Linked DNA regions of Homo sapiens. The protein of the gene in region 2 purifies or fractionates together with the protein of the main gene of each other region. This does not show direct contact. Each region holds a gene or a part of one and is shown on either strand. Other genes may lie near its edges.

The links.
Region 1: the proteins of SLC35C1 (region 2) and RP2 purify together in Homo sapiens (affinity purification with mass spectrometry; one large-scale study listed by BioGRID and IntAct). This does not show direct contact.
Region 3: the proteins of SLC35C1 (region 2) and RABL3 purify together in Homo sapiens (affinity purification with mass spectrometry; one large-scale study listed by BioGRID and IntAct). This does not show direct contact.
Region 4: the proteins of SLC35C1 (region 2) and ITPR3 purify together in Homo sapiens (affinity purification with mass spectrometry; one large-scale study listed by BioGRID and IntAct). This does not show direct contact.

What each region holds. Positions count from the first base shown.
Region 1 is NC_000023.11:46,843,481-46,852,012, forward strand, and holds part of RP2 (protein XRP2), read left to right. Parts: intron 1-8,532. UniProt on the Homo sapiens protein: Acts as a GTPase-activating protein (GAP) involved in trafficking between the Golgi and the ciliary membrane.
Region 2 is NC_000011.10:45,806,785-45,810,832, forward strand, and holds part of SLC35C1 (GDP-fucose transporter 1), read left to right. Parts: intron 1-1,351; coding exon of another isoform or gene 1,352-1,395; exon of another isoform or gene 1,396-1,758; coding exon of another isoform or gene 1,759-1,786; intron 1,787-3,991; coding exon 3,992-4,048. UniProt on the Homo sapiens protein: Antiporter specific for GDP-l-fucose and depending on the concomitant reverse transport of GMP. Involved in GDP-fucose import from the cytoplasm into the Golgi lumen.
Region 3 is NC_000003.12:120,685,231-120,693,301, forward strand, and holds part of RABL3 (rab-like protein 3), read right to left. Parts: intron 5,258-8,071; coding exon 5,219-5,257; intron 4,874-5,218; coding exon of another isoform or gene 4,832-4,873; intron 4,659-4,831; coding exon 4,593-4,658; 3' UTR 1-4,592. UniProt on the Homo sapiens protein: Required for KRAS signaling regulation and modulation of cell proliferation. Regulator of KRAS prenylation, and probably prenylation of other small GTPases. Required for lymphocyte development and function. Not required for myeloid cell development.
Region 4 is NC_000006.12:33,687,322-33,693,913, reverse strand, and holds part of ITPR3 (inositol 1,4,5-trisphosphate-gated calcium channel ITPR3), read right to left. Parts: coding exon 6,587-6,592; intron 6,437-6,586; coding exon 6,350-6,436; intron 5,858-6,349; coding exon 5,747-5,857; intron 5,676-5,746; coding exon 5,483-5,675; intron 5,259-5,482; coding exon 5,133-5,258; intron 4,677-5,132; coding exon 4,504-4,676; intron 3,881-4,503; coding exon 3,716-3,880; intron 2,998-3,715; coding exon 2,805-2,997; intron 2,300-2,804; coding exon 2,195-2,299; intron 2,114-2,194; coding exon 1,986-2,113; intron 1,187-1,985; coding exon 1,021-1,186; intron 370-1,020; coding exon 209-369; intron 1-208.

The DNA.
Region 1 (8,532 bases), on a different chromosome or scaffold from region 2:
CTAACTACACCTCACTGGTAAACTAATTTAGCTTTTAGCCCTCAGTTTCCTAAGATCCCTTCCAGTTCTTGAATTCTTTGAGCAGCCCATGAGGGGAGGTAAGCATTGCTAGAAACATTCAGGCAAATCTGGATGAACAAAGGGAATGTGATAGGATGTAAAAATAGATTCAGATTAGATTAGATGATATGGGGAATCTTTTCAATCCTAAAATTTCATAATTCTATTTTGTTGTTATATATTTCACAAAATGGTAAGCTAATATAAATGTAGTACTTCAGTTTCTCGAATCATCAATAGTATATAAGCTCAAGATACTGGTCTTGAGCTTATACTATATAAGCTCAAGATACAGGGTAATTTTTGTATTTTTAATAGAGACAGGGTTTTGCCATATTGGCCAGGCTGGTCTCGAACTCCTGGTCTCATCTGATCCTCCCACCTCGGCCTCCCAAAGTGCTGGGATTAAAAGCAAGAGCCACTGCACCCAGCCTCAGAAATTTTTATAGAAGTTTTAAGAATGAAGCATCAAAAAAGAAAAGGTATCAGAAAGCTGAAATAGCAAGGTCGTGGTTAAGATCATTAGATACATAGGATATGAGTTGAATTTTTCATAGCCCCTTTTATTAAAACAATCATTTAAAAAATATATTTTTGACCCTGGTACTCTACAAAGCTTAGTACATTTTTTTTATTTAAAAAAATTTTTTTATTATACTTTAAGTTGTAGGGTACATATGCACAACGTGCAGGTTTGTTACATATGTATGCATGTGCCATGTTGGTGTGCTGTACCCATTAACTTGTCATTTACATTAGGTATATCTCCTAATGCTATCCCTCCCCCCTCCCCCAACCCCACGACAGGCCCCGGTGTGTGATGTTCCCCTTCCTGTGTCCAAGTGTTCTCATTGTTCAATTCCCACCTATGAGTGAGAACATGCAGTGTTTGGTTTTTTGTCCTTGCTATAGTTTGCTGAGAATTATGGTTTCCAGCTTCATCCATGTCCCTACAAAGGACATGAACTCATTCTTTTTTATGGCTGCATAGTATTCCATGGTGTTTATGTGCCACATTTTCTTAATCCAGTCTATCATTGATGGACATTTGGGTTGGTTCCAAGTCTTTCCTATTGTGAATAGTGCCGCAATAAACATACATGTGCATGTGTCTTTATAGCAGCATGATTTATAATCCTTTGGGTATATACCCAGTAATGGGATGGCTGGGTCAAATGGTATTTCTAGTTCTAGATCCTTGAGGAATCGCCACACCGTCTTCCACAATGGTTGAACTAGTTTACAGTCTCACCAACAGTGTAAAAGTGTTCCTATTTCTCCACCTCCTCTCCAGCACCTGTTGTTTCCTGACTTTTTAATGATCGCCATTCTAACTGGTGTGAGATGGTTATCTCACTGTGGTTTTGATTTGCATTTCTCTGATGGCCAGGGATGATGAATATTTTTTCATGTGTCTGTTGGCTTGCATAAATGTCTTCTTTTGAGAAGTGTCTGTTCATAAAAGCTTAGTACATTTTTTACTTGTATAAATTCCAAATAGGCTAAAAGCCTACTGACAGTATTGACAGTAGCAATGATGATGTAGGTGTCACTTGGGTTAAGTCACAGGAAAACTCAAACCATAGTGTCACAGAGGCTACCCTTTAGCTTTGCATGCCCAGAACACAATTTAATAGCAAAGATAGTGGATCTGTCTTCTGGGAGGTGTGTATATTGACTAAGATCATAAGTTTTATATTATTATTGAGAGAAACTATTTGTCCTGTTCATTTTCTTATTATGTTTCAAAGTCATTGAGATTAAGAATTTATATTTCAGCACTATTAGTTCTATAATTATGTGGCACTAATGTTTTCATTTGTGAAATAACCTCTCAGCTACATAGCTATCTAGCCCTGAAGCTGACTTAACAATGTTTAAACTTTAAGTATTTGTTTTAATTGAAGTGTAATTTATATACAGTAAAATTTACCCTTGTTAAGTGTACGGTTCTATGAGTTTTGACAAATAAATACAGTTGTGGAGCTATCACCAATCAAGATATAAAATGGTTCCATCGCCCCCAAAAGTTCTTCCTTTGTATAGTCAGTTTGCTCCTTTGTAGTCAGCCCCACTCCCAGCTCCTGATAAGTTTTCTATCCCTATAGTTTTGTCTTTTTGAGAATGTCATATACATGGAATCATACAATACGTAACCTTTTGAGTCTGGCTTCTTTCACTTAACCATAATGCATTTAAGATTTATCCATGTTGTTGCATGTATCAAGAGTTTTTTTTTTTGAGATGGGGTCTCACTGTGTCACCCAGGCTGGAATGCAGTGGCACAATCTTGGCGCACTGCAGCCTCAGCCTCCGGGGCTCAAGTGATCTCCCATCTCAGCCTCCCAAGTAGTGGAGACAACAGGCGAGTGCCACCATACTCAGCTAATTTTTTGTATCTTTTTGGTAGAGATGGGGTTTCAACACGTTGCCCAGGCTGGTCTTGCACTCCTGAGCTCAGGTGATCCGCCCACCTTGGCCTCCCAAAGTGCTGGAATTACAGGCATGAACCACCACACCCAGCCGGGAGTTCCTTTTTAATTGCTGAGTGGTATTCCGTTGTATGGATATATCACAGTTTGTTTATCCATTCATCAGTTAAAGGACATTTGGGTTGTTTCCAATTTTGGTAATTATGAATAAAGCTACCATAAATATTTGTGTACAGGTTTTTGAGTGAACATAAGTTTTCATTTCACTTGGGTAAATACTCATGAGTGGGATTGCTGATCATATGGAAATTGTTTATTAAACTTTACAAAAAACTGCCAGGTCAGTGGCTCACACCTGTAATCACAGCACTTTGGGAGGTGAAGGCAGAAGGATCGCTTGAGGCCAGGAGTTCAAGACCCGCTTGGGCAACATAGTGAGACCCCACCTCTACAAAATGGATAAACATAGCCAGGCAGAGTGGCATATGCCTGTAGTCCCAGCTACTTGGGAGGCTGAGACAGGAGGATTGCTTGAGCCCAGGAGTTTGAAGCTGCAGTGAGCTCTGATTGCACCACTGCACTCCAGTGTGGGCAACAGAGCAAGACCCTGTCTCTATAAAAAAAAAATTAATTAAAAATTTAAAAAAGAAACTGCCAAACTATTTTTCAAAGTGGCTATGCCATTTTGCCTACCAGCAGTATATGAGAGATACAGTTGCTCTGCATCCTCACATCACTTGCTTGGTATTGTCAGGTTAATTTGTTTTTAAGAGACAGGGTCTGCTCAGTCTCCCAGGTTGGAGTACAGTGGCATGATCATGGCTCACTGCAGCCTGGACTGCCTGGGCTCCAGCAATCTTCCCACTTCAGCCTCCCAAGTAGCTAGGACTACACTACATGTGTCTGCCACCACACTCGGCTAATATTTTTATTTTTTGTAGAGACAAGGTCTGGCTGTGTTGCTCAGGCTGGTCTGAAACTCCTGGCTTCAAGCGATCGTCCCACCTTGGCCTCCCAAAGTGCTGGCATTACAGCTGTGAGCTACTGCACCTCGCCTAGCTTTAAAAAAAAATGTTTAGCCATTCTAATAGGTGTGTAGTGATGTTTCATTGTAGTTTAACTTGCATTTCCCAAATGACTTGTATTTACCTAAATGTTGAGCATTTTTCATGTACTTATTTGCCATCCATATATCTTTGGTAAAATGTTTATTCAAATCATTTGCCCATTTTTTTATTGGGTTATTTGTTTTCTTATTATTGAGTTTTTCAGAGCTCTTTATATGTCCTGGATACAAGTCCCCTGTTATATATATGTTTTGCAAATACTTTTTTCCCAGTTAATAACTTGCCTTCTCTTAAGAGTGTCTTTTGAAGAGCAAACATTTTCAATTTGAGTAAAAGTCCAATTTCCACTCACTTTTTCTTTTGTGGATTGTGTTTTTGGTTTCACATCTAGGAATTTTTTTTCTTTTTCTGAGACGGAGTCTTGCTGTGTCGCCAGGTTGGAGTACAGTGGCGCGATCTCGGTTCACTGCACTATATGTATATGTATGTATGTATGTATGTATATACACATACACCATATATATGTGTGTATATATATACATACATATACAAAACAATTGCTTACTAGATGCACAAATCAATGGAATAGAGAGTTCATAAACAGGCATATCTCTCTTTACATATATATATCTATATCGATCACACTATATATATGTGTGTGTGTATATATACACACATATATGTGTGTGTGTATATACACACATATGTGTGTGTGTATATACACACATGTGTGTGTGTACATACACACATGTGTGTGTGTATATATATACACACATATATGTGTATATGTGTATATATGTGTGTATATATGTGTATATATGTGTGTGTATATATATACACGCATATATATGCGTATATACATATATATGGACTCATATATGTGTATATACATATATATATATATATATATATATATATGGACTCACAGTGTGTCCTTGGACAAGTTATATAGTCTCTGTGTGCCTCAATTTTCTCAAGTATAAAACAGAGATAATTATAGTACACAACCCTTATGGGGTTTTTATGGATTGAGTGAATGATTATAGAGCACTTAGTATGGTGCCTGGTACATATATAGTGCTTCTTATACTCCTGAATCTTTTTACTTCTATTCAGACTGGATTTTCATTGGAATTAACAAATCCCATTATTTTATCTCACATTATCATTATGGAAATTTAACTGTGGAGATGAATTTTAATGAAAAATTTGTATTGCCGCTTAGTAAGATAATAAGATGTTCATTTTTGTTTTCTGTTAGGAAAATAATGCTTAACTTGGTTTAATAGCTGTAGGACATTAAATTGATATCAGACGAATTACAACTCTTGAAATTTTTCTTTGATTTTTTTTTTTTTTTTTGAGACAGAATTTGGCTCTTGTCTTCCACGCTGCAGTGCAGTGGTGCGATCTCGGCTCACTGCAACTCTGCCTCCTGGGTTCAAGCGATTCTCCTGCCTCAGCCTCCCAAGTAGCTGGAATTACAGGCGCCCACCACCATGCCCAGCTAAGTTTTGTATTTTTAGTAGAGACGGGGTTTCACCATGTTGGCCAGGCTGGTCTGGAACTCCTGACCTCAGGTGATCCACCCGCCTCGGCCTCCCAATGTGCTGGGATTACAGGCGTGAGCCACCACGCCTGGCCACTTTCCTTGATTTTTTAAAGTATATCCATTACCTTTTAAGGATTGTAGTAAGAAATAGTCTAGGCCAGACACGGTGGCGCATGCCTGTAATTCCAGCACTTTGGGAGGCTGAGGTGGGTGGATCGCTTGAGTCCAGGAGTTCGAGACCAGCCTGGACAACATGGCGAAACCCCATCTCTACAGAAAATACAAAAATTAGTTGTGCATGGTGGTGTGCACTTGTAGTCCCAGCTACTCAGGAGACTGAGGCGGGGAGGATTGCTTGAACGGTGGAGGTCGAGGCTGCAGTGAGCTGTGAGTGTGCCACTGCACTCCAACCTGGGCAACAGAGTGAGACCCTGTGTCAGAAAAAAAAAATACAGTCTAAACTAAACTCACTTCATAAGTGGCTCTTAGGAAAAAATAATTTAAAACATGACCTTTCCATGTTTGTGATTCTAGACACTTTATTTCAGAACTAGTAACCTGCAAAATTACGAAGGATTTCAGTTTCAGTTGTTTATTATTACTTTTTTTTTTTTAAAGTGTCAGGGTCTTGCTTTGTCACCCAGGCTGGAGTGCAGTGGCATGATCATGGCTCACTGCAGCCTTGAACTCCCAGGCACAAGCAGTCCTCCTGCCTCAGCCTTCTGAGTAGCTAGGACTACAGGCGCACACCACCATGCCCAGCTAAGGGTTTTTGTGTTTTTTTACCCCCCTTCCACCAACTCACTTCAAATAATCTGCTAAGTTTTAAAAAACTTTTTTAGAGCTAGGGGAGTGTCACTGTGTCACCCAGGCCAGTCTCAAACTCCTAGTCTCACTAGGCCACTGGCCCACTCTCAAGTAGCTGGGATTACAGATGTGAGCCACTGTGTCTAGCTCCTAATGCTTTTTGTTTTGAAAAACTTTCAGGAATTGTTGAGAAAGTACAGCAACATAAATCTTAAATTTCTCCTTGGAAGGCCGTGCTGACAATCCAACTAATTTTATACTACAGAACTATTTAGCTATAAAATCTTTAGCTATCAGATTAATTTCTCCCTATGAGCTAGGAAAAGTGGAGCGTCCAGAGAAAATACTTAGGGTAGTAAATTACATTTAACTCCTCAGCATTGGCAGCTGTTATGGACTGAATGTTTGTCAAATTCATATGTTGAAGCCCTACCCCCCTACACATGGCTGTATTTGGAGATGGGACCTCTAAGGAAGTAATTAAGGTTAAGTGAGGTCATAAAGGTAGAGTGCTGATCTGATAGGATTAGTGTCCTTATAAGAAGATTCAGTTAGCTTGCACTTGCTCCCTCCCTCTCCTTCACACAGAGGACAGGTCTGGTGATGACATAGCAAGAGGTTGGCTTTTGCAGTCTGAGCAGACTAAAACAGGCTGCCATAACAAAATACCACAGACTGGTGGCTTAAATAACAGAAGTTTATTTCTCACAGCTCTAGAGCCTGGGAAGTCCAAGATCAAGGTGCTAGCAGATTCAGTGTCTGGTGAGGGCTCTCTTCCTGGCTTACAGACAGCTGCCTTCTTGCTGTGTCCTCACATGGCCTTTCCTCTGTGATTCATCCTTCTGCCTTACCTCCTACAGCCATTGAATTACCAGTCTGCTGATTCTGTTTCCTCAGTATTTCTCAAATTCATCCCATCTTCTTCTTCCCTACTAATTACAGCTCTGGTTCCAGCCCTTTCTGTATGACTACAATAGTCTCTCCGATCAATCCATGTTGCATGTGTCCTTATCTCATCAGAGTAATTATCCTGACATGTAAATTTTGCTTATTTAAATCTTTCTGTGGTTCCCTCTTGTCTGTGGATAACTTCTAAGCTTTATATAATACGGTTTCTGCCTACCTCTGTAGCTTCATCTACTAGCATTCTGATAGCATGTGTAACACCAAACTACTTTCAGTTTTCCTCCTACTCCCTGAAGAATTTTACTTTGTTCCGTCTGTTACTTTTGCCTGGCATGGGAAGGGAGGGTCCTTTATTCCTACCCCTTTTACCTAATGAGCTCTAGCTTATCCATTCTCATGTTTTGCAGAACTTCCGCCCCACTTCTCTTCCCCGCCCCAGATGTCCCTTCTCTGTCCCCTCCAAAATATTCTCAGCATCTCTCATTACATGGTCAAGTTGTTTTTAGTTTAGATGAATGTTTACTTTTATGGAAAGAGCTGGTCCTATTCATTTTAGTGCCTAAAACAATGTCTGGCTCATACTGGGTATTCAAATATTGGTAGAGTGACTGAACATCCAGAAAGTTAAGGGGATTTTTTCAAGATCCGGTTGCTTATAGGGGACAAAATTGGGACTGGAAAATGAGTACTTCTTTTATTGCCTCATACTGCAGACCAGTGTTCCTCCTAGTACAGCATGTAAAACTGGCTAAGTACAATATCTATTGTGCAATTACTAAGTCAATTTAAGCTCATTTGCTAATCATTAAGATGATTAAATTTTGCTTTGTAAATCAAATTTTTACATATTGTATATATGGGAGCCTATGGTGCATGAATGGTTTTGCATGAAGTTTATATAGTCACAAACAGTTAAAACAGTTGAAGTAGATAAGAAAGTCACATGGAAGAAACAAAAATAGGCTTTTAGTGACCATATTTTGATAGGTCAGGTAAAATAAAAAAAATTAATGTGACATTTTCCAGGCATACTGTTTAAAAGATTATGTGGGCCGGGCTCGGTGGCTCACACCTGTAATCCCAGCACTTTGGGAGGCCAAGGCAGGCAGATCATCCAAGGTCAGGAGTTTAAGACCAGCCCGGCTAACATGGTGAAACCCCATCTCTACTAAAAATACAACATTAGCTGGGCATGGTTGCACACGCCTGTAATCCCAGCTACTCAGGAGGCTGAGGCAGGAGAATCACTTGAACCCGGGAGGTGGAGGTTGCAGTGAGCCAAGATTGCGCCATTGCACTCCAGCCTGGGTGACAAGAGTGAAACTCCATCTCAAAAAAAGAAAAAGGCCGGGCACGGTGGCTCACGCCTGTAATCCCAGCACTTTGGGAGGCCGAGGCAGGTGGATCACAAAGCCAGGAGATCGAGACCATCCTGGCTAACATGGTGAAACCCCATCTGTACTAAAAATACAAAAACAGGGGCCAGGCGTGGTGGCTCACGCCTGTAATCCCAGCATTTTGGGAGGCTGAGGCGGGCAGATCACGAGGTCAGGAGATCAAGACCATCCTGGGTAACACAGTGAAACCCCATCTCTACTAAAAAATACAAAAAATTAGCCAGGCATGGTGGCGGGTGCCTGTAGTCCCAGCAACTCGGGAGGCTGAGACAGGAGAGAGCCGAGTTCATGCCACTGCACTCCAGCCTGGG
Region 2 (4,048 bases):
TTCACATGCCCGACCACTGTACTTTATTGTTTCTCAAGAGCTCAGGTGTCCTGATTTCCCAGCCAGTGCTCTTAGTAGAGGACAATACGTCTTTTAATAAATATACCATCACTCTCTGCCAGCTCAGGATAGCGCCTGAGACAGTAGCAAGCAATATGCTTTGAGAGGCCTCAGCTGTCTTCCTGGACTTGACCCTCAGAAAATAATAATTATTGATGGGGAAATTATGCTAATTATTTCACATATAGCATCTCCTTTGTTCTCCCAGAGATCCCCTGGGTTGTGGCATCACTACCAGCGGTCATCTCTATACAAACAAGGAAACTGAGGCTCAGAGATGTTACATTACTTGCCCACGGCCACACAGCTAGCAAGCAGCCAGGCTGGGATGCAAACCCAGATTGGCCAGACTCCCAGGCCTGTGCTTCTATCCCCTCTGCTCGTCTTGGAGGTTAGAACTGCAGTATTCAATGCAGTAGCCATTGGCCACTTATTTAAATTAGTTAAAATTAAGCAAAATGTTAAACATTCACTTCCTCATTTGCAGATGTTACAACCTGATTTTCTAGCCACATTTCAAGGGCTCAGTAGCCAAATGTGGCTGAGGGCTATGGTATGGGACAGCACAGGTTAGATGGGCCCATATTTTACTGGGCCCCATGCTGCGTTAGAGAGCCTCCAGCATCCCATTCCCTCCGAGTCTTCCCAGGGCTGCGTCATCTAGGAATGGGGTCTTCATTTGAACCTATGCTGGTTTTTCCTGGTGCTATAAAGTTTATCTTATTTGGCCTACATATCATATTCTTTGCTGATGGCTCAGGGTCCCAGGCTAGATGCACCGGTTGGTGGGGGAAGGGACCCATCCCATGCCACCTGTCCTAGAAAATGTTTCCCCTTGTTGAGCAGCTGCTGGATCTAGGGCTGCTGGGTCTAAGTCCAAGAGGGGAGAAGGGAGAAGGTCACAGTTAGAGTAGGGGAAGCTGCAAGACCCCCCCTGCCAGAACTCTCCCAGCCTGCTTCCATTTCCCTCTCCAGGGAACAGGTGTACCTCCCCTCCTCCCTGTCCTCCTCAGATGCCCCAGGGCTCTCTACTTCATTCCTGCTGACCCTGCCAGGAGTGGCCTCAGGGGTAGAGGCTCCTAGTTGGAGAATTTGCTTGCAGGAAGGTGAAGACACTAGGGTAACTGGGCCCAAATCCCAAAGGTAATCCAAGTAACCAGTGGTGAGGTTCTGAGAATGGTGCATTCACGGGCGTGCCTGACTGGGACAGGGGCCAGGGAGGTGGACGCTCTCTGCCAGCCCAGGACCTGGCTCCCTATCTGCAATGTTTCCTCTTTCTTCCTCCTTGTAGGGGAAGACGAGTCTCAGGCAACTATTCTAGGCCTCCCCTCCTAGCCCCCCATGTCACACAGTAACTTTCAAAGCTCCTTCTGGGCCAGGCACAGTGGCTCATGCCTGTAATCCCAGCACTTTGGGAGGCTGAGGCAGGTGGATCACCTGAGATCAGTAGTTCGAGACCAGCCTGGCCAACATGGTGAAACCCTGTCTCTACTAAAAATACAAAAAATTAGCCGGGCGTGGTGGCATGTGCCTGTAATCCCAGCTACTCGGGAGGCTGAGGCAGGATAATTGCTTGAACCCGGGAGGCAGAAGTTGCATTGAGCCAAGATCGCGCCACTGCATTCCAGCCTGGGCGACAGAGCAAGACACAGTCTCAAAAAAAAGTTCTTTCTGGGCAAGAGTCGCTCTAGAACATTGATGTTGCAGTTGCTTCTGGACTCAGAAGGTAACCACCAGGAGGGCTAGGGGTGCTGTAGCCAAGCAGGTGAGTGGGTGGTGCAGCCCTCTGCCCCCCTCACCCTACCCCCAGCAGGTCTGTGGGTACCCCTTGTGCAAAGGTTCTGTCAAGAAAGAGGAGGGTCGGGCTCTGTGGTTGGGCTGGGCATGGTGGCTCATGCCTGTAATCCCAGCACTTGGGGAGGCTGAGGCGGGCAGATCACCTGAGGTCAAGAGTTCAAGACCAGCTTGGCCAACATGGTGAAGCCCCCTCTCTACTGAAAATACAAAAATTAGCCAGGCATGGTGGCGCATCCCTGTAATCCCAGCTACTCAAGAGGCTGAGGCACGAGAATCGCTTGAACCCAGGAGGCGAAGGTTGCAGTGAGCCAAGATCGCACCACTGTACTCCAGCCAGGGTGACACAGCGAGACTCCGTCTCAAAAAACAAAGAGAAAAAGAGAAGAGTGCTGTGTGTTGAGTGCCTATGATGTAGGAAGTATCCTGTCTCCTTTAATACAACCACCTCCATAACAACTTTCATTCATTCATTCCACGACTAGTAATTGGTGGCTAAACACATGCCAGGCACCATGCCAGGCTTTGGGGATACAAGTTTGGAAAAGGTAACCTCAGCTCCTACACTCCTGGAGGGCATGGTGGTGACAGTTACGCTAGCATAGTAAGGGCTGTGATGGGGCATGCATAAAAGGGGCTGTGGGAGCTCTGGGCAAGGGAGGGGACCCGGGGACAGGGCAGTCTAAGCAGGCCTTCTGGAGGAAGTTTAGAAACTGGGTTTAGAGGAAGAAGTAGGGACAGAACATTCTAGATAGAAGGAAGAGCACGTGCACTTCTTCATGGCTGGGCCACAGCAAGACTCACCAGACACAAGGCTGCCCAGTCAGGCCGACTCCACGTGGTGCAGGTCCTAAGAGCTGTGGTGAGTGAGTGGAATTTCTCCTGAAGGCAGTGGAGAGCCACAGAGAGGCTTCACACCAGGGCACAGCCTGGACCGATCTGGACTTCAGGATGATCATATCAGTTGCAAGGTGGAGAGTAGATTGGCTGGAGTGGAGGACAGGGAGGTGACCCAGAGAGCTCAGAGTGGTTAAGTAACTTCTCCCAGGCCACTCAGCTTCTAAATTGCAGAGCCTGATTGGAGGCTAAATCCCTCTGACCCCAAAACTTTCCCCACTGCCCCGTGTTGCCAGATGCTGTGGCAGGAAGTATAACATGCATTGTTCAGCCCCTGGCTTCTGGGAGCATGGGATCTGGCTAAAAAGACCAGACTGTCACCATGGGCAGGGGCCCAGCAGCCCAGAGCAGGCAAGGGGCTTTGCAGGAAAGCGAGGCAGTAAGAGTCCAGGTTCTGGGATTATCAGGAAAGGATTCCCCAGGAGAAGCCAACTTTGACCTTGACAGATGAGTAGAATCCCCCAGAAAGGAGGAGGGTGTTTCTGGCACAGGACATGAACAAGGACACTGAGGCCCAGGGTGAGAAGCAGGGAGACGAGCAGGGAAGCTGGGGCGACCATAGGACAGAGGAAGGGCCTGCACCCCCGCCTGCCACGCCAAGGAGTGTAGTCCTCATGGCAGAAGTGGGGAGCCACGGAAGCTCTTTGAGCAGGAAGTGACACAAGATGAGAGTCTCAGAGTCACTGCCCCAAATGACACAAGAGATTCTAACTTAATGTGCCCCATGATGACATCATAGGCTCCCATTCCATGCAAGAAGCAGCCAAGGCTTAGACACTGGAAGTCATTTACGCAGGGTCACCTTAAATCACATTAACCACTAAGTGGCACTCATTCTTCAGAACTCAGTTCAACTGTTATTTTCAGATGCCCCAGGCCAGCACAGTCGCCCACTTACAGGCTCTCACAGCACCTTGTACTACTTTATGGACCTCATTACAATTCTTACAATTGTAATTAAAGAAGTAACTGGGAAGATTTGTTTTAATGTCTTTCTCCTCTGCTAGCAGATAAGCTGCCAGAGGAGGTTTTCTTGCCCTGGGCGGCTCCCATAGTTCATGTGGAGTGCTTTGCCTGCAGTGGAGACTCTGGCTGTGCTTATTGGAGGGAGGCCTGGGGAGGAACGGGGAGGGCCGCAATACTCAGTCTGTGAAATTTGGTGTCTGATCCTCTGTCCTTCTTCCTCCTCGTCCTCATCCCTCTTCCTCACCCTTCCCCACTCCTCCTCTCCCCACTGCAGGGGGCTTCTGGCTTGGTGTGGACCAGGAGGGGGCAGAAGGCACCCTGTCGTGGCTGG
Region 3 (8,071 bases), on a different chromosome or scaffold from region 2:
ACAGAGTAATCACTCCAAAACGGAGTTAGGCATCAGAGGACTCCAGGACAGATGTCTCCGAGAAAAAGATGGAACGGAGAGATTACCTGATATACTTGATGGTACTGAGCGAGGTTTTACACCTTGGTTGGAGTTTAGGGGTTCCATTCTTTGTCATTAGTTATTGATGACCTCGGTAAAGCTTAGTGATTAGCCAGCTGAGAAAACACAGTACTAGAGAGGGGGCTGTGTGTAAGATGGCAAGGCACTGGTTAGAAATAAATATATTTGGATTAAAAACAGAACCCAGGGGAAAAACAGTGGCAGTAATAAAAATGATAGCAATACATGAAAGACAAATACTTGTTTTGCCAACAGAAGACATGACAATCATCTCATGTTTAATTTGGCATATGTAGCTTTGAGTGGGGAGGAGTGGATCAGTTCATTAAGGTGAGATCAGGTTGAGGCAGTCAAAGATGCGCTTTGATGAATTCTGCTATAATGGCACTCATAAAGTACAGAGTTCACAATCTATATTCCCTACTTTTTGATGAGTTTATTTGTCTTTCTTAAAGGCTAGATCCTGACTTATCTGCATGAGAAAAATCTGGCTTGTCTGTTAAAAATACAAAATCCTGGCCTTATCCTATACATATAGAAAGGGGAGAGTAAGGGAAGAGAGAGGAAATCGTGGAATCTGCATTTTCAGCAAGCACTTCAGGGGATTCTTACACACTTCAGAGTTTGAAAGCCCTCCATGTGAGTCCTTAATGGAGGTGCAGATTAATTGTAACTGGATGTCCAATTCCTTTACTATGCTATGGAGCAGCCCCAGCTGACCCTAACATCAGATATTTTGTGTAGGCAAACATGTTGTGAAATATTTGAGACACAGGGTTAGACTTCCTGCGACCCTTCCTCTCCCACCACAGTGATTTAGCTCAGTCTTGGGACTGCGGAGAAATGAATTTCTAATTTCCTTCTCCTCCTTTCCCCAAAACAGACTCCTCCTTTGAATTTTAACATATATTAAACCAATGCAGACACCCTGTTAGACCTTTAAACTTCTTAAAATATGATGTCACCTGTGCTTTAAAAAATTCAATTAAGCCACCATCTAGTAACCCATACAAGGTCCTACCTATGGTGGGTGCTACTGCAAACTATTGAAATGAGGACTCAGAAACTCTGATTACAAGGAGCAATTAGGAGCTCTTCACCTCAGTCTGATGTCCCTGCACATCATTTCCATGAAGTCCATGTCAGAATGAACAGAAAAACAAGTGTCAGGGCACCTGGATTATATCATGAATGCCTCAAGTTTGAGGAATTCTAAGAACCCGAGCTAAAGCTAATATGGATCAACTCTTTTGGGAATAGCTTTTCTTAGAGCACTGTAGCGGAGAAGAGCTTTCTTTCTTCACCCATCACTAGGTTCACAAATGAGGCACCTATAACGAAAGACAGATTATTGAGAAAAGCACACACATTTATTTACTGTAAGTTTTACATGACAGGAATCTTCAGAAATGAAGACAAAAAAGAAATAGGAAAACTTGTGTATTTTTATGTACAGTCTTATGCAGAAGTATAATCAGAGGACAAAAGGACATAATCTAATGGTAATAAACTGTGGAGAACTTAGCAAGTCCTATTTGTCCAGATTCTTCTTGGTGTCTCTGTATCTGTGAGGATAAAGGGTACCTATGGAATGAAGGTTTTATGATCTACTTCAGGGAACAGTCACTTAGGGTTTATGGCCTGCTTCAGGGGAGAAGGGGTAAGGGGAAGGTATGAGAAACCTTGCTTCTGCAGTTTTCTCAAATAACAGGGTGCAATATTTTGGGGTTATGTGTCCTGAATCCCATCAACGTTAAGATGGAGAGACCAGCCCAAATCTTTAGTTGGATTCCAGCTAAGTCTTATACACCTAAGGGACAGAGGAGTAGTCATATATATGCCTTCATATCTGGTCACCTTCACAATGAGTCAGAAAATTGGTCAGACACCGAAATCACAACAGAAAAAAAAAATCTTTATTTCTACCAACTTGTCCCATCAAGAGAGTAAGATATACATATGTAAAGAGATGGAGTCCCACTCTGTCATCAGGCTGCTGGAAGGCAGTGGTGCAATCATGAATCACTGCAGCCTCAAACTCCCGAGCTCAAGTGATCCTCCTGCCTCAGTCTCCTAGAGTGCTGGGATTATAGGCGTGAGCCAGCACCTGGCCAATTATACTTTTAAAAAAATATTTTGACATTTATACTTGTTTATTATCTAAAAGCATTTTTATGAATAGTTCTCAAGAAGTCCTAGCAAAAATTGTGCTTCATTCTTTTTTGAATAACTCTAGCTAATAACATTCATTTGCGCAAAAAGCCTTATTATGCTGCTGCTAATAATTGCAACAAATTTACCTTAGATTATTAAAAACTATTTTTTCTTAGAAAACTATAATTCAAGGAATCAAGCTTGGCTGCAGAAAGTAATGGAGTTGAGGAATACTGTTAATTTTTCCAGATTGACCCTGGAGTCATCAGCAATAGTTTACTTTTATTATTTATTTATATATTTATATATTTATTTATTTATTTTCTTTTAGTTGGAGTCTCACTCTGTCACCTAGGCTGGAGTGCAGTGACACGATCTTGACTCACTGCAACCTCCACCTCCCAGGTTCAAGTGATTCTCCTGCCTCAGCCTCCCAAGTAGCTGGGATTACAGGCGCGTGCCACCAGGCCTGGCTAATTTTTGTATTTTTAGTAGAGACAGGGTTTCCCTATGTTGGCCAGGCTGGTCTCAAACTCCTGATATCAAGTGATCGACCCGCCTCCCAAAGTGTTGGGATTAAAGGTGTGAGCCACCGCGCCTGGCCTATTTTTATTTTTTAAATAAGATAGAAAATAAAAAAATCAGGATGAATTTTTTTAAAATTAAAAGAAAGAGGAAGAAAGAAGGAAGGAAGATTTATTTCTTGAAGGAGAAATACAAAGAGCTTAATTGGGTTAGGTCTCTGGGTAGCATTTGGTTTCTACTTCCCAACTGTACAGCCTATGCAACAACATACTTGTGACCAATTCTACATACAGATCATGATTTGCATAGCTTTCCTTTGTGTCAAAAAGAAACCAGGGCTATGTCCTTTCAAAGAGGAAGTAAAGAAAGGCTGGAGAACAGTCTAGCTGATGAAAGCTGCTTTAAAAATCCTTTTCCAAATTCCCAAGACTGCCTTTCTAAAAGGACTCTCTAACATTCTTATTTTAATATCCTCTTGCAGCATACCTTGATTTCCAAGATACTTCTGAAACCTAATTAAAATGGAACAGAAAGTGAATTTGGTGTTTTCCACCTATTTTTTAAATGAGAAATGAAAACTGTATATTTATTATTGTTATTTAAAAGTATGGAGCAAAATCAGGAGTGCAGAGACCTGCAGCAGAGCCAGAGAGAGAATACGGGTGATAGAGTGTTGAATAAATTGTTTTTAGAAATCAAATTCATATACTCAGGAAGAACTGGGGCAGAGAAGATTAAGCAAGCAAAAAGATAGGTTAAAAAAAGTAATGATGAACAATTACGGACACACACACACACACACACCATCCCCAAAAAGCTTTGGAGTGATTATGAAATCCAAGAATCCTAGTTCATAATTCATGTAAATGTGTTGCTGTGGAACTTATTTTTACTTCTCTCCATAAATACATTGTTGACACAGAATAATATTCTTAGTTTTCTGATTATAGCTAAGGGACATTTCAGGAGTTGACTTTTCCTTAAAAAAACAAATAGAGAGGAGGCTGTAAATGTCTCTCACTGCCCTTGTGCAGGTCTTAGATTTTACCCTACCTATTTCCAAACAGAAAACCTAGACTGTATATAGCAGCAACCTTAAGAGTGAGGGAGCTGTCAATTTTTCACATCATTTTACCAGAATTCTTTTTTTCTGGTATTGCTGTTCTCTATGTATTATTAATTTGTATTTATATTTAACTCTGGCTATTAGTCCGCCTCTTCCAGTCACTGAGCCATTTGCAAAGGAGAGAAGAGGGAGACAAGGGTTGCTATTATTAGGCATTCCTGTGTGTGACAATGGTGGAGACAATTAAATAACACCATTTTGCATCTTTGAAAATGACAGAGATTGTTTGGGGTAGACAACTCAGGGCTGGTTAACAAGACCGTTCCCCTCAAGAAGGTAAAACAATGGAGATACGTTTTTGAAGTACTTAATTAAGCTTTCAGCAATGAGTGTGGGAAAATTACAGACCCATAAAAACCCTCCAGTTCTAGGCAAGAGTAAATTTTCTCTGCAGTACACTGTCATTGCTCATTTACTGCATCATTTTGACAACATCTCATATTTACACAAGGCTTTTACATAATCTATACACAGGGACAGAAAGGTAAGGAACACAGAGAACAGGGACAAAGTTTGGACCTCCCGTATTGTCACTTCCTTTCATTTTTCCATTAAAGGGTAAGGCTGAAGGGTAGCATTTTAAGATGATTTTGTTAAAAGGCTGTGATGGTAATAATTGAACACAGCAAGATGAGCTGTGAAAAACTGCCACTGCTTGCTCACTCTTCCAAAGGATGAGTGTAATTCAGTCATAATGAAGGCTCTTTAATGTTCCTGCCCCAAATCTTTTCCGATCAGGAAAGCCTGGAATCTGTAGGCAAGAAAGATAATTGCATTAAGTCTCAAGCAATAAAAGTTCAAATACTAATAGTAATTTTTCCCTTCTTTTCCATTTCTGTATGTCAGCCTGCTGTTTCTTAAAAAAACAACTTTCTGAGGTTTTACTCAGAAAACCACAGATTAAATAATAAAAATAAATCTTACCCAAATGGAAAACATTTCCCAACAAATTGGTGATAGTGTCATCTAAATCAGAAAGAATGAAGGTAAATCTCATAATACCTACTAGACTTTTATAGAAATTATTTGTATTGTGACAGACCCTGAACGTATACTCTTGGAGTCCCAAGCAAATTATTTTCTTCTTCTATTTTATAATGTAATCTTATTCCTAGATTATATTTGTTTCCTAGATCCTTATTTTCCCTTTGTTCTGATTTTCTCCTTTTGTATTTAACAGGATAGAAGGAAATCAGTTGCTTGTGCCTATAAAGGGCTTTCCCCAACTTTTTAAAACTACTTCTGAACTTAAATTTGGAAATCACCTATCAAAATTTAAGAATCTATTTTATCAAGAAAAGAGATACCAACCTGATTACCTTCTCTTAAAAAGTATCTCTTCTCTATGACCTGTGAAAAACAAAGATTTTAAAGGCTTAGCACACATACCTGCAAAAAGTGGCTAACTGCAACGACCACTAATGGTACTAAAAGGAATATATCCAAACTAAGAATCTTTTCCATAGCAGTAGACATGTAGTACAGTCAGCTAAAAATCTGGTGTTAATGAGATCAGAATTGTGAGAGTATTTCCATAAAAGCCTGCCTCATTCCAAAACGCATTAATGATAGATCAAAAAATAAATGAATAACAAAAACTAAATAATGATAGAATGATATAAGATCCTATGCAATTCTTAGAGTATGACAGCAAATCTGACTCTAAGTTTCCTAGCAGTCAGTCCCAAAAGGTACTAAACAGCATCCATAAAATAAAAAAAGCACTTGCCTGCTACAATAGTCTTGTCTATTTCTTAAAGAGGGGACTGTTTAACATAGCAAACCACCACATCCCTATAGTAAGTGGTGACAAATTCTATATGTCCTCAATATAGACAGATGACACAACATCAAAAGCAGTCTAATGACTGTTGTAAATTGTCTACTTTTTTTTAACTAACTGCACCCTTACTTCAGTAGTTTCAGAATTACCTGCATTTGATAAGTAGAAAAAACATGTTCAAGCAGCAGATGTATCTGCACAAATCCATCACCATTATTGAAAAGAAACCCTCAAAATATATGTCCAAATGTAATAAGTTTAAGAGCACCATGTTTTCATTTTTTCCCAAAACTGCTGTAAACCCTAAAGAGCACCATGTTTCCAGATGATGAAAAACATTTTCAAGAATAATAAATTCTGTTCTGACACTTGAGAAACTGCAATGGTTACAGAGGAAGTATTATAAATGGTCTCTGATTTAGGATGGCTTGACTACGATTTTTTGACTTTATGGTGGTGTGAAAGCAACATGCATTCAGTAGAAACTGTACTTTGAGTGCCCATACAATGGGCACTTTTTTCACTTTCAGTATAGTATTCAATAAATTACATGAGCCATTCACAACTTTTTAATAAAATAGGCTTGTGTTAGATGATTCTGCCTAACTGTAGGCTAACATAAGTGTTCTGAGCATGTTTAAGGAAGGCTAGGCTAAGCTGCGATGCTTGGTAAGTTGGGTGTAATAAATGTATTTTTGACTAACAATGTTTCCAATTTACAAGGGGTTTACTGAGATATAACCCTATCGCAAGTTGAGGAATAGCTGTATTTTCTTTACATAGACCTGCTGTGATAAGAAAAGTTAATCGGATAATAATACAGATCAGCTGGAGATGAACTCTAAGACATTCAAATCTGAAATTATGCAGCTAAGAGTTCCTCTGAATGAGAACAGACCAGCTTGCTCTCTCTGGTGCCACAGCCATTCATCCAGATTCAACACCAAGACCATTCATCCAGATCCAAGACCAAGACCAGCTTGCTCTCTCTGGTGCGACAGCCATTCATCCAGATTCTTGCTGTCTTGGAGACTATAGCTGGATTATTTTTAGCCACAAGACACCAGGGCAAAGTTGCATTCACTTACCCCAGAGGTAGAAAAGTTGGTTTATCATTAGTGTACATCTTAAAACAATCCCACAAAAACCAAGAAGGAGACTGATTCCCTTTCCTCTCTATGGCAGGACAGGAAAATCTGATTATTCTGGAGCGTGAGGAATTACTACTAGTTGAAAGAGGCTGGAGAAGGAGTTAGACTTCCTTTTGGAGAAGAAATCTTTTTTTTTTGTTTGTTTCAGATGGAGTCCTGCTCTGTCACCCAGGCTGGAGTGCAGTGGTGCGATCTCGGCTCACTGCAAGCTCCACCTCCTGGGTTCACGCCATTCTCCTGCCTCAGCCTCCTGAGTAGCTGGGACTACAGGCGCCCGCCACCACACTCAGCTAATTTTTTGTATTTTTACTAGAGATGGGGTTTCACCATGCTAGCCATGATGGTCTTGATCTCCTGACCTCGTCATCTGCCCGCCTCGGCCTCCCAAAGTATTGGGATTACAGGCGTGAGGCACCGTGCCCGGCTGGAGAATAAATCTTTATGCTAAATTCTGGAAGAACTGATGTATAGAAAACTGGGTGAAATCTGGTTGTCAGCTCCTTTGGTTTCAGGCAACCACCTCAGTCTGGAGGTCTGGCCAACCTCCTAACCCACATACATTTTGTTGTGATTCAGGCAATAAAAGAGAAGTTACCTTTTTGGTTTTGGTCATAATTCTTTACCCCTGACTTGCAATGTGTACTCCTGATTTTTTAAAAAATAAAGCCTTGCCTGACAACTCGGATTATACCAATCAATAACCCAGTTTCTCTAGGATGTAATTTAGTATATCTTATTTTTTAATTTTAGAACTAATAAAATTTTAAATTTAAACAACATACTGTGGGATCTTTCCAGGTCAGGGCAGATCTATAAGATGTTGCTCATAAGGGACAGAATTTTGTATTGATGGGGCCATAGATCTAAACCAAATGGAAATTCTTATATTTTAAGTTTGAAAACAATGTGGGCAAAAAATCTGGCTCCTTGCAGTGCTGCACAACATTTTTCATGTCATGGCACACGTAGAAAATGCTAATATTTGTATAGCACACTGGAGAAAATGGAAGCGGTTGCCAATCACCCAACCCCCCCACCCTGAGGACCCTGGCTGCTCTGAGAACTGAGGGAAATCAGCATCTAGGCACATCTGTACCCTATTTCCCACATATCAGTTAAGAAGTTTTGCAGTGAAGCAAAATTTTCCTAGTGGCCTAATATTAATCGAGGAGGGTGCTGGAGCTTATCTAGTGCTGATAAAAAGGCCAAATATTAAATCCCAAATTATCT
Region 4 (6,592 bases), on a different chromosome or scaffold from region 2:
CTGCTCCTCGCCCTGCTGACCTTTCAACAAGTGTCTGCAGCTGTCCGAGCCCCTCTGCCTGGCCTCCTAGGGCCAACAGTCAGATAGGGCCACTCCTCTCCAGGGCCCAGGGTACTCAGAAGCTAAAACCATGAGGCCTCTGGTGCACAGTGATGACTCTAGAATGGCTGGTTTGGGCCCACAGGCCTGGCACAGCCCCTGCTCACACCTTGATCATCTGGGCCACGTAGCTCTCAGGGCCCGTGTAGTCGGTCTTGTTCTTCACGCGGACCAGCACAATGAAGTACAAGTAGTTCCACATGTTGTGCTCCAGCTTGATGTGTTCCTCAAATGACACTGTCTTGTTATCAAACTTGTCCCTCTCCAGACCTGAGGGTGCAGAGGGCGGGAATGAAACCATCAGCCTTCAAGAGCCACTGCAGGGTCACCTGCTGGAGGGGACCCAGCTTCCGGGGGTTGGAGGCATTTGTTCTCGGGATGAGCGCTTCCAACAGCTCGCTCTGGGCTATTTGGGTCACTTCTATTTAAAGCAGCAGCCACTTAGTGGAGATCCTGCCCTGCCGCAGCTGCAGCCCTCCCGCAGCAGCAACCGAGGACTCCAGGAGTAAACGCGAGAATTTCTCGAACTCAGGGGAAGCCCGAATGGCTGAATGAGCGAGGTCCTACAGGCCATACAGGTGACACCTGCCTGAGCCCGAGGTGGCTGGTGAGGGGACTAGCACTTCATTTCAGGGGTAGGAAAAGCACTGGACTGAGACCAGAAGCTCCAGACACTGACTGGGCTCATGTCCTCACCTAGAAACCCCAAGGGTTTACAGGGATGGGCCTGTCCCACTCCTTTCTGACTCCAAGTTCAGGCAGGGTCATGTTCTCCCCAGTTCTGGGATGAGCAAATGCATCAAGTCATCAGCTCCGGGCCAGGGTTCCCCAGGGCAGGAAGGGCCAAACCGCTACTGCCACTGGCATCAGATGACGTTCCAGCCCCGCTGCGGCCTCCACAGAGCAGGAAGCAGCCCTCACCACAGATGAAGCATGTCGTCTTAAGAATCTCCTCCTTCTTCTGCTTCTCACTACGCAGGTCAGCGAAGGTGTCGATGATTACCCCAAAGATGAGGTTCAGCACAATGATGATGACGATGAAGAAGAACAGGAGGTCATAGACCACTCGGGCTGGGAAGAGAGACTCCTGCAGGGGATGAGGCAGGGAGGCTGGGCCCGGTGGTCCCCACATTCACTGGGGCAAGATAGGACTCAGGTTGGGGCCAGGGCTGTGATATTGAGGACCCAGCCCCTAGCAGAAGGAAATGAGGGCCTCTGGCCTGGGGGCCATCAGATGGCAGAGTGGACCCAACCTGGCTCCACAGAGCAAGAATTGCAAGCAGAAGCCCTGAGTTTGGGTTAGGAAAGCGTGGACTCAGGACACGCCGGGGTGGAGGCCTGCAGAAGGAGTCTGGCGGGGAGGTAGGGCTACGAGTCTCGGTGTGTCTCTGCCCCTAACATTGATGAGGGAAAGAGGCAGCTCTGAACACCTCTGCCCACCCTCAGGACGCCTGGCCTCACACATTCCAGAAACCCTCTGTCTGGCCAGGGAGGCGGCCTCTCACTCCCAAGCAACAGGGGAAGGCCTGACATTCGGGAATGTGGCTGCCCAAGCCAAATCATGAGGCCTCCTGATAAAGCTGACTCAGCTCCGCCCTCTGCCCACCTGCTGTGGGCTAGGAAAGCCAGTGGTCACCATCCCTAGCCCTGGGGCAAAGTTTGGTTGCCAAAGTCTTTCCTTATGGAATGGGAGGGTGAGGGGGCAGCTAAGCAGTAATATCATGGAATTGGCCAGGTGTGGAAAGCAGGGAAAAGTGGATACAAGTTCGGGGGAGGGGGTTCAACCCTGAATATCTGACGCGAGGCCAAGGACAGGACTCTCCACAGTTGCTGATCTGGACAGTGGCTTGGGCCCCACAGGTTTGGGAGTGGGCAGGAGTGCTCACATCTTTGGAGGGCTTGCGGAGAATGTCGCCCACGCCACCACCGTTGCGTAGCCCATGGTTCATGACAGTGACGATGCACATCAACAGAGTGTCACAGGCCCGCTCTGTGCTGTCCAGCTCCCTGTCCTCTGCAAGCGGAGAGTGTGCTGAGGCCCGGGCTGCCTGCTCCTCCTACCCCACACAGACTCCTGCACACACACCACCCTCACCTTCCAGGACCTCAGGCACCGAGAGCCCTGAGACACAGTCCATCTTGTCCCCACTGCAGGTGTCCACAAATGCAGCAGCTCCATGTGGCATCCCCAGGGGGCTGGCTGGAGGGGATATGGATGAGATCATCAGGAGGTCCAGTGCCTGGCCTTATCCCCTGGCTCTGTCCCCAGTGTCACATCCTCCAGGAAACCTTCCCTGGTCCTGGATCGCCAGCCCTCCACTGTCCAGCCACAGTGAAGGGTCATCACGCTTCTGCCCCCGACTGGGTTGCACACTAAGGGCAGGGAGGGGTCTCTGTACCCCTAGGCCTGGCACACGGGCAGTTTCTGCAAATACTGGGTTTAACATGAATGACAGTTCAAGGGACTCCAGCCCTCAAGCAAGGGGTTCCTTAGGGGCCAGAGACCCAAGGCTCTCCCACCCACTCAGTGTGTTCCAGAAAAGAGCGAGGCAGACTGGTGTTAGCTAGACGTCCCCAGAAGCCAAGAGGAGAAGCAGACGGGAGCCTGGTGAGGTAAGCGCTGCAGGTCCTGGTCCTGACGCCAGACATTTGTGAGACCCAACCTCATTCCCCACAACCTGCCCAGGAGAGGAAGCCTCCAAGACCTGTGGAGTGGTTGTTGGGCAGCCGGTCGACCTCGAGAATGAAGTCATCCTTGAGGAAGAGGAAGCCGACGATGGAGAAGAGGTAGACCAGGATGAGGGCCAGCAGGGCTGTCAGCAGGATGGAGCGGCCATTGCGGGTCACACTCTTGATGACGTTGAACAGCGTCTCCTCGCGGTAGATGAGGTCAAAGAGCTGCAGGATGGGGTTGAGATAGGGATGGCACCTTGAGGGGCTGGGCCGGCCACTCTCACTGGGGCTGCCACTGGAACCCTGAGGGCTGCCTGGGCTCCAGACAGTTTCCCAAGGCTCCTCCAGGGAGGTCTGCACTTAGTCGTATCCAAGCTGGGTGGGCCTGTCAGGGGAGCTTCTCGAGAAACCTGGAATTCTAAGGTCACAGAAAGGGAGTGGCCCAGGGGAAGGCACGAGGGGTGAAACGGGTGGCTGAATACCAGCCAACTCTTAAAATGTACTTGCTGCATGCCAGGAAACAGTGTAAGTGCTTTCCATGCATTAGCTCATTTCATCTCACAATTATTTTAGAATGCAGGGGCTGTTGTTATCCCCATTTTACAGGTGAGGAAACTGAGGCATGGGGCAGTTAAGAAACTTGCCCAGTTACACAGCTAGTAGTAGCCCAGCTGAGATGCAAAGCCCTGGTCCAGCTCCAGAGTCCAGGCTTGAACCACCACTGTACAGGAGAAAGGGGTCAGATGGCCACCAGGAGTGGCCATCAGGGCCTTGAGGGCCAGGCTTGGGTCAGGCAGATGAAGACTCTGTAATTTCACTGCTCCCAGCCCAGCAGCAAAAGGACTGGACAGACAGACTGGTGCCGGGGAACTGCCAACAACTCATGGGAAGCCCCAACCACCCCATGCCCCCATCCAGCCCCAGCCCACCCAGAAGGCCTCACCAGGATGCTGTAGAACAGCTCATGAGCAAAGAGGCCCAGGACACTGGTCAGGATGTAGCCCACGTGGTAGAGGAATTCCATGTCCATGACCATGGCCTTATAGCCCCGGATGAAGGTGCCACGGTTGCCCACGAAGCTCACCACAAACACGATCTTGTTGGTCAGCTGGGGGCGAGTGCAAGGCATGAGAGTCAGCACCCTACCACCTATGCTGAATCTGCACGCATGTCCCCCAGTGCCCAGCTCAGAGCCTGGGAGGCATGGCATTAATGAAATTGCTTCCAGAAACGCATCTAGGCGCCTGGGACTCAGAATACAGAGGCAGCCCCTTGGGTCCTCAGTTCCAGGAAGACAGTGAGGTACAGGCAACGGAGGATGGGGACAGAGAAGACCACTGACTGGCTCTATCAGGGAAAGGTATTCCTCGCTCAAAGCACTTTATTTCCATCTGTCAGGAGATTGTCATTATGTATGAATCTTCACGTCTGCCGCGTAGCAGTGCCTCTGGGCAGTGCACAGCCCGCACAGTGTGCACAGCCACCCTGACCCTGTTGCTCCAAAGGGACTCTTGAATTTCTGTCTCTGAGTGCCAGCTGCCCTCAGGTGTTGAGGGAAAGGAAGAAGGTACAGAACAGTCCCTGCCACCGGTCTATAAGGAACTTGGGAGCCCAACAGAGAGGAGGGGATGGGACAGAGCAGTGGCTCCTGGAAGCAGCAGGCCAGCTTGCCGTCTGAATGCACAGTGAGCATGAGCTTGTTTGGGAATGGGGGCTCCCTCTGGCACTCACATTGAGGGCACCCAGGATGTTGAGTGTGGGCCCGATGCCCAGATAGTAGATGGAGCGCAGGATGAGCGCCACGATGAGGGGGCGGATGCTGTAGCGCTTGGTGAACAGGGCCGCGATGGAGAAGCAGATGAGGATCCAGAAGAGCAATGAGATGAGAGGGGAGTCCAGCACGCCTGGGGGCCAGGGGCAGGGTGAGCAGGGCTCCCTCAAGCCCACCACGGCCCCAGAGCAGGTCCAACAGGTGCCGAAAAGCCACCTTCTCCTGGCCGCCTTCCCGGTTAAGTTCCTGGTGCCTGGTTTTAGCCTCCTCCATTACACCTGCCTCTCAGGCCTAAGCGGGAGGCCCTGTCCGGCTGCGGCTACCAGGTTTTGTTTCTGGCTGACACATCTATGCGTGTGCACGTGCCTGCATGCGCCATCTCCCATGAGGTCAAAGACCCTGACCATCCCCTTTGACCGCACCTGTGTCTCCATGATGGGGCGAGAGCCCACAGGATGGCGCAGGGGGTGCTTCTGCACACTCTGCATCTGGTGCCCTCAGAGGCCAGCTGGCCTCAAGGCTCTGCCCCAACCCAGGGAGGAAGCATGGCAGGGCCCGGGGAACCTGCCGGCCAGCCCTGTGTTCTCACCTGTGGACGCGCCCTCCATGTAAGGGTAGAAGAAGGCAATGATGATGTTGATAAACACGGCCAGGTTGAAGGAGATGCTGCCCCACAGGGTCATGCGGCGGGAGAACCAGTAGATCAGCGGCATGCCTGAAGAGGAGGGCAACGGTGAGCTGCTGGAGGGCCCTGGTGAGCACCCCCTGCCCCTTGCATGTGGGGCCCCGCTCAGGAGGAAGCCACACATGGAAGAGCCCTTCCTTGGGGTGAGGCGGGGTTGGGCGCAGGGCACCCACAGGCAGGCAAAGGAGGCCGTTATAACAGGGCATCAGTGAACAGCTCCAGACCGCCCCACCCTCCCGCCCGTGGGTCCTCACTGCGGAGCTTGCGCTGCCACTCCATCTCGTTGTGCAGGAAGGAGGACTGGTCGAAGAAGTCGCTCACTTTGCTGCCCTGCTCGTCCTGCTCAGTAGTGGTGAAGAGCCGGTGCTTGGTTTCCTCCGTCAGGAACTGGCAGATGCCGGGCACTGGGAACACGATCTGCTCCATGCTGCGGTCCTGCCGCACAATCTGAGCACACACAGCACATGGTCACGCCCGGCGCAGGCTCCCACGCCCGCCCCTGCTGCCCACAGGCCCACCTCGATCTGGGACGTGTGGTTCTCATAGTAGGCCAGGGGGTCTTCCTCCTCCTCCTGTGCTGGCGCTGAGGACTTGAGCATCTGTGACAGCTGCTTGTTGTTGAGGCTGAGCTGGAGGTGGGGAGGGCGCGGAGGTCAGGCCCCAGCCTCCACATCCAGGCTGGCACTCAGCCCCCACCCTCCCAGGCCTTCGCCTAGCTCTGAACTACACTTCAGCGAGTGTCCCCGCCAAGCCAGAGCAGGCCAAGCCCAGCCCAACTAGGACTGAGCCTTGAGAACCTGGTGCCAAAGGGAGGGGAGTGGGAGAGCCATGACCAGAGAATCCCAGAGGATAGCGGGGGCCTCCTCAGTCCTGCCCAAGTGTAGCCCGGGTCCTGCTTGAAGCTTCCAGACCCACCCTAGACCCACCTGAGCCTTGCTTCCATTTCTGTCTGGGTTTCACCCACGGCTGCCAGTCCCAATCAGCCCCCTGAGCTGTACCCCCAAATTCTAGCCTGGCTCATATTCTAGGGCCTCACTCTGTTCCAGGCCACGCCCTTGGGTCAAGTGTCCTCCCTGGGTTCCAGGCCCCACCCCCACCCCAGTCTCGGGGCCAGCACCCACCATGGAAGAGATACCCTCGGCCTCCTCCTCTTGAATGCGCTTCACCGGCTTCAGCAGGTGCTGCAGCTGTTTATTGTGCCTGGAGAGCTGAGGGAAATGGCAGCACAGTCACCAGGGTGTGGTGGCTGGGGGACATGGTGGCTGGGGGGCGACAATGGCGACTGGGGGATGATGGCAGCTGGGGCGGGGTATGGTGGCCAGGGGGGTGATGGCCGTTGCCACGGGTGGAACTGGTACCTGCAG